Linked DNA regions of Homo sapiens. The protein of the gene in region 1 interacts with the protein of each later gene in a pairwise test. Each region holds a gene or a part of one and is shown in the gene's direction. Other genes may lie near its edges.

Region 1 (3,557 bases):
CAGGACTCTCTTTGAGTCCAGTTCTCTTCACTTCCCCAAAGGTGATTCTTGATCACGCGAGGTCCCTAGATGTTAATAAATACTACTTGAAAAAAAGATTTTAAAAATGAATGGGAATTCTGAACTAAAACCAAAATAAATAGGTTTCTTTACTGTAGAAAATTTTCAGAGCCTTTAATGCACTAATTATGCTTTGTAAACCTCCAGGGAAGCATGTGGTGTTTCTCAAACTTATTTGGCCAGGAAACCTTTTTTCCTGGCCACCTCCACGTGGCCTGGTGTTCTGCAGAAGACCCTCAGGAAAATACCACACTAGGCTGTCTTGCCTCATGTGCCATTTAATATTTTACAAACACCTAAGTCTAATTGCTGCTGGATATTCCATCATATGGCTAAGCCAAAATTTATGTGTCCATTCTTTAATTGTTAGACATTGAGATTGCTTACAGTTTTTCAGCATCATTGATAATTTTCAAAGGAATTCTGGTTACTTTGTAACCATCTCTGATTATTCCCTTAAGAGGTGGAATTGTCAAATCAAAGTATCTGAACATTTGCAAGATTCTTGAAACACATTGTCCAGCTGCTTTCCAGAAAGGTCATGCTCGTTTATTTTCTACCAGCTGCGGGCAGGGTTAATGTCCATCTGCGAAAGCTGAGCAGCCGGAGAAGCTCCAAGAGCCTGAAGAAGGCCGTTCCCGTCTCCCCTGCCACAGGGACCTCCAGCAATTAGAAAACAAATAATCACACACACTAAGGACATAAACAGCTATTTCTTTTGAGGAGACACACTGGGTTTTCACAGTTCCCTGTGCCGTTTCTAAATAATTGAATGACATCTGAAAAATTTCTCAACATTTTAATTTGGTCTTCTAGATGTTTTGCTGGGTAGTCAGGGAAGAAGGGATTTTGAATTGGCATCTGTTGTGCTAATTTTCAAATAACCTTTCAAGGTAAGATGTAAAAATAAAGCTTTATCAGCCTCTTGTGACTGTGAACTTTATTTCCAGAAGAATCTTTTTATGTGAGCATTCCATCAGTCTTATTTCTGACCCCACAGGAATTGAATTATGTCATGTTGAGGACTGAGGCTGATTGTGGTGCTTTTGCTTTCTATTTGTAAGGGGGAAAAGCATAAACATTGTAGACTAGAAGTGATTTATCTTTTTGTCCTCCACCAAGATCACCCTTTGGTCAATGCATTATTGGGTTTTGGAACTGAGACGTGAACTTCTAACTCATTAAAACCCTCAAGTCCCCAGCAATAAAGTCATTTAAGTGGCTTCACCAACAGAGATTTATTTCAAAGCGATTCCATTTGGAGGAAGGAAAGAATGAGTAATGCATTATATACCAAGATCGCTTCAATAATTCATGAGACCTCCATGCCAGTGACCGTTTTAGATTCAGTTCATGGTGTTTTAGCCTAAAGTGAACTCTCTCTGTCTTAGAAGACACCCGCAGTTTGCTCCTCTTTGAGCTTGAGTCCATGAATATCTTTACTTTTGGGAAATAAAGTTTGTATTGACTGCTACTTTGTGCGTTTACATGAACCACTCTTATATGGAGGCTATTTTGAAAAAAATGGGCATTTTGTATAATTGGGGTAAAAGGATACTTAATCTGCGGTCCTTACCCTTTGAAAAGTAGGAATGTTTAAAAAAAATTATTGCTTTTTCCTTCCTTTGGGCAGGAATTCTGATTTTGTTTTTTAAGTGTAAGGAGTAGATTGCCAAATGGTGGGTTAAAAATAGATTTATGGATGCCTAATAATTATGCCAAACACAGTGTTGGGCCGTCAGTGAGTACGGAAAGGCATGCATGGCAAATGTCGCTGTCCCCAAGTGCGTTCTGGAATGGGGGCAGTGGGTGGCGCCGGCCCTTCAGCATCTTCGGCCACCGCACAGTTCAGCTGTGAACTCCTTGGTTCACCCTGAGCTTCGTCCAACCTTCTCCCTTTTCTGAAACCCGCAGAGGCTCCAGAGTCCTTTCTCTTCAGGATGGAGACCTGCATGGAGGGACTGGAGGCAGGGAGGGTGGCCCACTTCCTTTCCACACTATTGTGAGTGCCTCACCAGCATTCCTCAGTGCAGTAACAGGGAAACCTGGGGACTCAGATTTCCAAATACCATCATTTCAGTTTGGCAAGTATTGATCCAATGATGAGTATCGTGGGAAAGAAAATAATAAGTTAGGGTTTTGTCGCTTGCCAGAAAAGCTTCAGGATCCACTTCTCCTTCCTCCCTGCTCTCTCCCCACTGCCCAATAAAAACAGCTGCTTTGTTCAAAACTTAAAAACCATATTATTTAAAACTCATTGTAAAAATTTATGCTATACAGATGCTTGTAAGGAAAATGTAAAAATCGCTGGAAATCCCACCTGTTAAGATTTAGAGGAACCTCGTGTTATTCCTGCTCACAGAGACATACTCCCACATACATTTTACCCTACATTATATTATCATATAATGATAAATTAACCACATAATAAATGATAAATTATATGCTATATGTGCTGTTTTGAGACTATTTCTCATCTAACAGTATGTCAAAGATCTCTTTTCCTATAAATAAAAATCATCATTTTAATGGCTATAGAATATCATTACATACATATATGTATTAATCTGTGCACAAAATAACATAGACTGGGTGGCTTAAACAACACACGTTGATTTCTTACCATTTGGGAGCTGGGAAGTCCAAGATCAAGGTGCTGGCAGATTCAGTGCCTGTGAGGGCCCCCTTTCTGGTATGCAGATACTCGCCTTCTTGCTGTATCTCACATAGGGGCAGGGCAGGGAGAGAAGGGAGATCTGGTCTCCTTCTCTCCTTATAAGGGACTAATCCCATCTGTGACCTCATCTAACCCTAATTACCTCCTAAGGGCCCCACCTCCTAATACCGCCACGTTGGGAGTTAGGGTTTCAATACATGGATTTTAGGGGAGACACAAACATTCAGTTCATAACATTATACCATGAGTCAATTCCCATTTACTCCCATAAACAGCGCAGGGATGTGTCTTCCTGCGTGTGATGGTCACTCCAGTATATATTCCTCTAAGTGGAATTGCTGGGTCAAATGGGACACACATTTCAACTTTTGATTATATTACCAACAGTTGCTTTGAAAGAAGATATTCAGCACATTCCATGTAGAGTATGTGTGCCTCCCTTCCCAAACCCACACCAACACTGAACAGCACAAATCTTTTTACAATTTAATAATTTATAAGTGTCTCCTTATTTTTATTGGTGTTCTTCCGATTCTAATTGAACATGTTTTAAAATATTTGTTGGCAATGTATATGTCTTCTGTGATTTACCTTTATATATATCTTTGTCCATTTTTCTATTAAGCCATCTTTTTCTTATTGACTTTCAAAACCCCTCCAGGATACTATTTTTTTTTTTTTTTTTTTTTTTTTTGAGATAAAGTCTCACTCTGTCTTCCAGGCAGGAGTGCAGTTTTGCAATCTTAGCTCACTGCAACCTCTGCCTCCCGGGTTCTAGCATTTCTCCTGCCTCAGCCTCCCAAGTAGCTGGGATTACAGG
Region 2 (3,557 bases), on another chromosome or scaffold:
GGAAGAATCAAGATGTGTACAAACAGAAAAAACTTGGTGGGAGGGAGACATGCAGTATTAAAGCCCTTTTTAAAAATCTGAAACTTTTTTACCAATACAAAAATTATTTTTATTTTTTATTTATTCATTTTTTTTGAGACGGAATCTTGCTCTTTTGCCCAGGCTGGAGTGCAGTGGCGTGATCTCACCTCACTGCAACCTCCACCTCCCAGGTCCAAGCGATTCTCTTGCCTCAGCCTCCCGAGTAGCTGGGATTACAGGCACCTATCACCACGCTGGGCTGATTTTTGTATTTTTAGTAGAGACGGGGTTTCTCCATGTTGGTAGGCTGATCTCGAACTCACGACCTGAGGAGATCCACCTGCCTTGGCCTCCCAAAGTGCTGGGATTACAGGCGTGAGCCACCGCGCCTGGCCACAAAAATTTATTTTTATTACTTATTTCCACTATCACATGAGCTAGATCATATAACAACATTGAAAATCCACTGGCTAAAGACCAAAGACAGACTAATGGCTCAGCTAGATAATAGCAAATGATATGTTGGACTTAAGTTGTTTGATTTTTTTTTTTTTTTTTTTTTTTTTTTTTTTTTTGAGGCAGAGTCTCGCTGTGTCCCCCAGGCTGGAGTGCAATGGCAGGATCTCGGCTCACTGCAACCTCTACCTCCCTGCAACCTCTACCTACCTGGTTCAAGCGATTATCCAGCCTTACCCTCCTGAGTAGCTGGGACTACAGGCATGCGCCACCACGCCTGGCTACTTTTTGTATTTTTAGTAGAGACGGGGTTTCACCATATTGGCCAGGCTGGTCTTGAACTCCTGACTTCGTGATCTGCCTGCCTCGGCTTCCCAAAGTGTTGGGATTACAGGCGTGAGCCACCGTGTCCGGCCTTGAGATATTTTTTTAATTCAAAAGTTTATTCACAAACTTCAACTTTTAAGTGTTTTATTACAGATAGACTGGTAAGCTACAGAATTTTTAGGACTTTTTTTTTGGGGGGGCGGGCTAGGAGGGCTGATTTCTGAGAAGCAGAGAAAAACTTGTAGACAGGAGAAGCCGTTTCTGTTACAGTAAAATAAAGCTATTATACTATTAGTATCCTTCATGATATTAAGCAGATACAAGACCCGTTCTTATTTATTAAAAGAACTGAGGGATATAGTAAGTATCAGTTTTTATTAAAGCTGTCTTTCTCCTATTGGACAATGAGTTGCGTTTACTGAGGGCCAGAATCCTTTTGCTCATATCAGGTTTGCTCCTGCCTAGCATATAGTAGTTGCTCAATATATGTTTATATATTAAACGAATAAATTGGTGGCTTTATTCTTTCTGCCTAAAATATTGTCTGGTCTTATTTGTTAGGAATTCTGACCACCTGATTTTCCATAATGCCTCATATCTGGTATTCTGGGTACTCTGCAATTAGGCCATTAAGAAACTGAAAGAACCAAGTTGCATTTTTTTTTTTCCAGGCTGGCTAGGGAACCATCTACTGGAGTTGAGGCTATTTTTTCCTGCCCTTTTATAGGATATTTTTTAAAGTATGAAATATTTTAAGTGTACAGAGATCAATATAATGAACCTTCATATACATACCACCCAGCTCTATAAGATTCTAGTAATCTGCCATGTTTGTTATTTTAAAATAAATAACACATTAAAACGCAGATAAATGATTCTGGTCTCTTTCCTTAATCTCCGGGTAATCATTATGAATTTGGTATTTGTCTCATTTTTTTTTCCTTTTTTTTTTTTTTTTAGTTTTGCAATATACATATGTACTTACCAAAAAAAACTATTTTGCATGCATATAACTACTTATCTGTTCTCCTATTTTATGAAGTTGAGGTTGTTTCTAATTTTCTTTACCAAAAAAAAATGAGCATTTCTCTAGGGAGTTTACTGTGAAGAAAAATGGCCGGGTCATAGAGTACGCTATTTATTTATTCATTTATATGTTTATGCCAAATTGCTCTGAAGTTTTTACTAATTTAAACTCCAACCACTATTGTGTGAAAGTTTGTTTTTCTACACTCCTCAGACTTGACATTAACAGAGATGCATGTTTTTTCAATCTGAAATGTTCTCTTAAGGTAATCTTTTCCTATCAGTCACATTAAATACCTTTTCATAGGTATTATTCATTGTTCAAGTTTACTCTTATAAGTTGAAGAACATTATTTGCATATTTGTGCTGTTAGATTTTTGTTCATTGGATATTGATAGGCATAGTTAATAAGTAAACATGCTTTTTAACAAACTAACACATTGCAGGCTTCTTCTATATTCTTTTAGATATTTAGATAGATGTTACTAACGTTTTACCCCTCACAAAACTCAAGTTCTATAAAAATATTATGAACCTTCCCATACTTGTTGGCATTTCAGAAATGGTACAACCTAATGAGCCTGTTACCAAGAATCTAGTGTAGTGAAATCTGGAGCCCGGGCCAACGTGTGTGAATTGCTGATAACATTTTTGTAAGCTATTTTTGATTAAGGGTAATTTGTCACTTAATGACCATAATTAAGTTTAATGTACCAGTAGTAGTTTATTGCTAAATGCCTACTTTGTGTCATACTACAAATTTGAAGAAAAGAGTATTTCCTGCAATGGTGACTCTCTTCTTTTTCTCATCCCCCCAGGTTGTATCAGAGTAAGATGGACGGTAGCTTTGATTGTGATTGTGGTGAGCTGGAGCCACCTGATCACTAACAAAAGACATCTTCTGTTAACCAACAGCCGCCAGGGCTTCCTGTTGAAATAAATATATAGCAACAAAGGAAAAAAAGAAGCAAAACGGAAATAGTGCTTACCAGCACCTTAGAATGATGCTGCTCAGGACCAGTCCAACACTGAATGTATCTGCACTGTGAGGAGAATGTTCATAGAAGCCTGTTGTGTGCATATTTATTCACATTTTTGTTAAATGTTAAATCGTTTAGCACGGTAATCTGAGTGCACAGTATGTCATTTCATTCCGTTTGAGTTTCTTGTTTTCGTTAAATGTCTGCAGAGTTGCTGCCCCTTTCTTGAACTATGAGTACTGCAATCTTTTTAATTCTCAATATGAATAGAGCTTTTTGAGCTTTAAATCTAAGGGGAACTCGACAGGCCTGTTTGGCATATGCAATGAACATCAAGAAACCATCTTGCTGTGGAAGCATAATTATTTTTCTTCTCCCTTTTTGAAAGATCTTTCCTTTTGATGCCAGTTTTCTTCCTTGTTTACACAAGTTCAATTTGAAAGGAAAAGGCAATAGTAAGGGTTTCAAAATGGCAGAGAAATTTGAAAGTCTCATGAACATTCATGGTTTTGATCTGGGTTCTAGGTATATGGACTTAAAACCATTGGGTTGTGGAGGCAATGGCTTGGTTTTTTCTGCTGTAGACAATGACTGTGACAAAAGAGTAGCCATCAAGAAAATTGTCCTTACTGATCCCCAGAGTGTCAAACATGCTCTACGTGAAATCAAAATTATTAGAAGACTTGACCATGATAACATTGTGAAAGTGTTTGAGATTCTTGGTCCCAGTGGAAGCCAATTAACAG
Region 3 (3,557 bases), on another chromosome or scaffold:
CCATCCCAGGGGGCTCTTCCTGCCTGGCCATCCAGGGGCTGGGTGCCCTGGGCCGGATGTGTCTGGTGGGACTCACTGGCTTCCCTCCCTCTGTTTGCTTCCCAGAGACCTGTGACTGTGAGGGCTACCTCAAAGGGCACTATGTGGGTAAGTAGCTCCCCCTGACACCCACATGCACGACCTGCCCCACCCAAGGCCCCAGAGTTAGGGAGAGGTCAAAGCAGGGTGATCTGAGCCCCAGGAGTCCTTCTGGAGCAGTGGAGCCTATGGGACCCCCATCTCTCCTCAGTTCTCTCAACCCAAGCAGGAGCTGAGCCTGCCCAGGCATTGGGCCCCCACCCAGCTTTTACCCAGCTGTGGGGCACACTGCCCTGGCGGGAAAGGCACACACACCCCTACATTAATACCAATTCTATTATCACCATCATTGCAATTGGAGTTTATTCAATATTAACACCACTACCACGCAGTGAGGGGTGTTTGCGGCTCTCCAGAGCCCCTTTTCACTTGTTTTGGTCAGTTTTTTCAAAGGTCTTAGAGATAGGCAAAAAGTTTTTTTTGTTTTTTGGTTATTTTTTAGAGACAGGGTTTTGCCCTGTCTCTCACGCTGGAGTGCAGTAGTGTGTGACATTGCAGCTTGCAGCAGCCTCAATGTCCTAGGCTCAAACAATCCTCCCACCTCAGCCTCCTGAGTAGCTGGGACTGCAGGCATCTGACACCATGCCCAGCTGATTAAAAAAATTTTTTTTGTAGAGATGGGGTCTCGCTATGTTGCCCAGCTGGTTTCAAGCTCCTGGCTTCAAGCAATCCTCCTTTCTAAAAAGTTTTTAAACTTTTTTTAAACTTATTTTTTGAGATATGGTCTTGCTCTGTTACCCACACTGGAGTGCAGTGGTGTGATCACAAATCGCTGCAGCCTCAGCCTCCCAGGCTCAAGCGATTCTTCCCTCTCAGCCTCCCTAGTAGCTGGGACTACAGGTGCATGCCACTATACCTGGCTAATTTTTGTATTTTTTGTAGAGACAGGGTTTCACCATGTTGCCCAGCTGGTCTTGAACTCCTGAGATCAAGTGATCTGCCTGCCTTGGCCTACCAAAGTGCTGGGATACAGGCATGAGCCACTGCACCCAGCCCCTTAACTTTTGTCCTGAAGTAATTTCAAACTTACTGAAAAGGTGTAAGAATTATACAAAGAACTCTCATATACTCCACACCCAGATTCACCAGTTGCTCCTTTGCCATGTTTGCTCAATTTCCTTTCCCACATCTCTGAATTTTTTTTTCCTGAGTCATATGAGACTTAGTTGTAGACATCGTGTCCCTTTAACCCTAAATCTCTCAGCATGTATTTCCTAAGGCCAAGGACTTTCTCAGGGCAGTGATCAAATTCTGAGAATTTAAAATGTATCCAAATCTGTTATATGCTGTTATTTAAATGTTAACAATTGTCCCCATCATGTCCTTTATGACATTTTCCCTTGGTCCAGGATCTAATCTAGGACCACACATAGTAGTTGTAGATTCATATCTTCATTTCACAGGTAAGGAAATTGAGGCTCAGAGAGATGAAGGGACTTGTCCAAGGTCAGTCACATGCCAAGTAAAACAGTGACCTTAAGCCCTAGTTTGTGAATGCAGGGGTCACCCTTTCATCTTATTATTGTATTTCCTGAACAACCTCTTCCAGTAGCAGGAGGAGGTTGGGAGAAGTCAGTGGGACTCAGTCCCATCTCCAGGTCTGGCCAGGTGGGAAAAGTCTCTACTGGGAGATCCTGGGACAACTGGGACAAATGCCATGGTGTCCCTCTGCCCCTCCTCCCAAGCTGGTCTTCGGAGGAGCTTCCGGCTGGGCTGTAGGGAGAGACTGGGTGGCTCGCAGGAAGGAAAGATGTCCTCCGGAGCTGAGTCTCCGGAGCTGCTGACTTACGAAGAGGTGGCCAGGTACCAACACCAGCCCGGAGAGCGGCCCCGCCTGGTGGTTCTGATCGGTAGGTGCCATCCTGGGTTTCCAGGAAGTGATCTGGTTTCCTCCCTGGAGCAGGTGGGGAGGGAGCTCAGCAGGGACCCTGGTCAGCCTTCTTCTTGTTTCCCAGGGTCTCTGGGAGCCCGACTGCACGAGCTGAAGCAAAAGGTGGTGGCTGAGAACCCACAGCACTTTGGCGTCGCTGTTCCACGTAAGAGGGCCCATGTGGGAGTGTGTGTTTGTCTGCACACACACAAATATTCCATGGAGACTTAACTCCCCAGATCCATCCAAATCCTTACTTTGGGTTTAAAGGATCACCAGGCACTGCCTGCTATTGGCAAATTGTGGGACAAAGGCATGATGGGAAGAAATCCACTCCCAGTGGTCCTCTGAGACCCTCTGAGGCAGAAGTTGGAGGACCACTTGCTTGGTTCCTGCCTGGGGTGGGAGATGAGTCCAGAGCACATTGTAGGCAAAGTGGCAGCCTCAACCTGACACCACGGGGCCCCCACAGTAGGGGGCATTCCTCCTCATCACAGTGAATTTTGACTCCTGTGGCCGCTGCCCTCTGCTTGGATGAGAGGGCAGGTCAGAGAAGCCACAGAGCCCTGTGAGTGGTATTTCTCGGCACTCCCTTATAGCCAGATTCCAGTTTGTCAGGGTAGCTGGGTACATTCCTGGGTGATGCCTCCCCTGCCAATTCCTGGGGCTTACTGCTGCCAGGGGCACCCTGGGATGTCAAGCTCCAGTGGGCAGAGGATCCTGGTTCTGAATGTGATAAGGAGGATGAGGAGGAGGAGAATGAAGGTGCCAGGTAATGCACCAAGAGCTTTTATGTGTAGTGCCCTGCGTCAGCCCTCCCAGTACCCCTGAGAAGAGAGATTGTTATCATCTTGTGTGGCAGAGGAAGACAGTGAGGGTCAGAGAGGTTAAGTAACTTGTCCAATGTCACACAGTTGGTAAGTGGTGGAGCCAGGATTCATACCCAGGCAGCCTGCCCCAGTCATGTTCTTAACGAGGATGCACAATGGCCTCTCACCTGCCGCCTCCCACTTCGTGCCCTTGGCTGCCCCTTTTCTTTCTGGGACTCACTCTCAGTCCCCCTGGCCTCAGAGGGATGCAGTGTGAATGCCTGGTGGCTACTGAGAGGGGTGCTGTGGGGGCCCTAATGGGGCCTCCTCAGAGTGTTCTGGGGCAGAGCAACCATGAAGCCTTGCTTTGATCACACCGCTCTCCCTGGGCCCCTGGGCCCAGCGTCTAGTCTGTGGGTTGTCAGAGCTGTCTTCCACAGCCCAATCTGAAGTGGCAGGGATGTGGGGGAGGTGGTGGCCCTGGGGAGGCCATCCTGGCAGCACACCTGTGATGGACCTGGAGGGCTTCAGGGAGCCACGGCCTTCCAAGTTTCAGGTGGACTGAAACAGGACATGCAGAGGTTGCTCACACACTGATCGTTCAGAACCCCTTGGATCCACCCCCTGGAGAAGAGGTACCTGGATGGTCAGGCCCACCTGCTTCTAGGCACTCCACAGATAGGAGACTTTCCTCCTTTGTTTTAGAAACTGGGGGAGTCAGGGAAGCCTTCCCAGAGGCA

What was found.
Region 2: the proteins of RAB31 (region 1) and MAPK6 interact in a two-hybrid assay, tested with the Homo sapiens proteins (one large-scale study listed by BioGRID and IntAct).
Region 3: the proteins of RAB31 (region 1) and MPP3 interact in a two-hybrid assay, tested with the Homo sapiens proteins (one large-scale study listed by IntAct).

The regions. Positions count from the first base shown.
Region 1 is NC_000018.10:9,809,285-9,812,841, forward strand, and holds part of RAB31 (ras-related protein Rab-31), read left to right. Parts: intron 1-3,557. UniProt on the Homo sapiens protein: The small GTPases Rab are key regulators of intracellular membrane trafficking, from the formation of transport vesicles to their fusion with membranes.
Region 2 is NC_000015.10:52,043,181-52,046,737, forward strand, and holds part of MAPK6 (mitogen-activated protein kinase 6), read left to right. Parts: intron 1-597; exon of another isoform or gene 598-2,484; intron 2,485-2,649; 5' UTR 2,650-3,280; coding exon 3,281-3,557. UniProt on the Homo sapiens protein: Atypical MAPK protein. Phosphorylates microtubule-associated protein 2 (MAP2) and MAPKAPK5.
Region 3 is NC_000017.11:43,812,628-43,816,184, reverse strand, and holds part of MPP3 (MAGUK p55 subfamily member 3), read left to right. Parts: intron 1-105; coding exon 106-147; exon of another isoform or gene 148-605; intron 606-1,541; exon of another isoform or gene 1,542-1,823; coding exon 1,824-1,988; intron 1,989-2,093; coding exon 2,094-2,174; intron 2,175-3,557. UniProt on the Homo sapiens protein: Participates in cell spreading through the phosphoinositide-3-kinase (PI3K) pathway by connecting CADM1 to DLG1 and the regulatory subunit of phosphoinositide-3-kinase (PI3K). Stabilizes HTR2C at the plasma membrane and prevents its desensitization.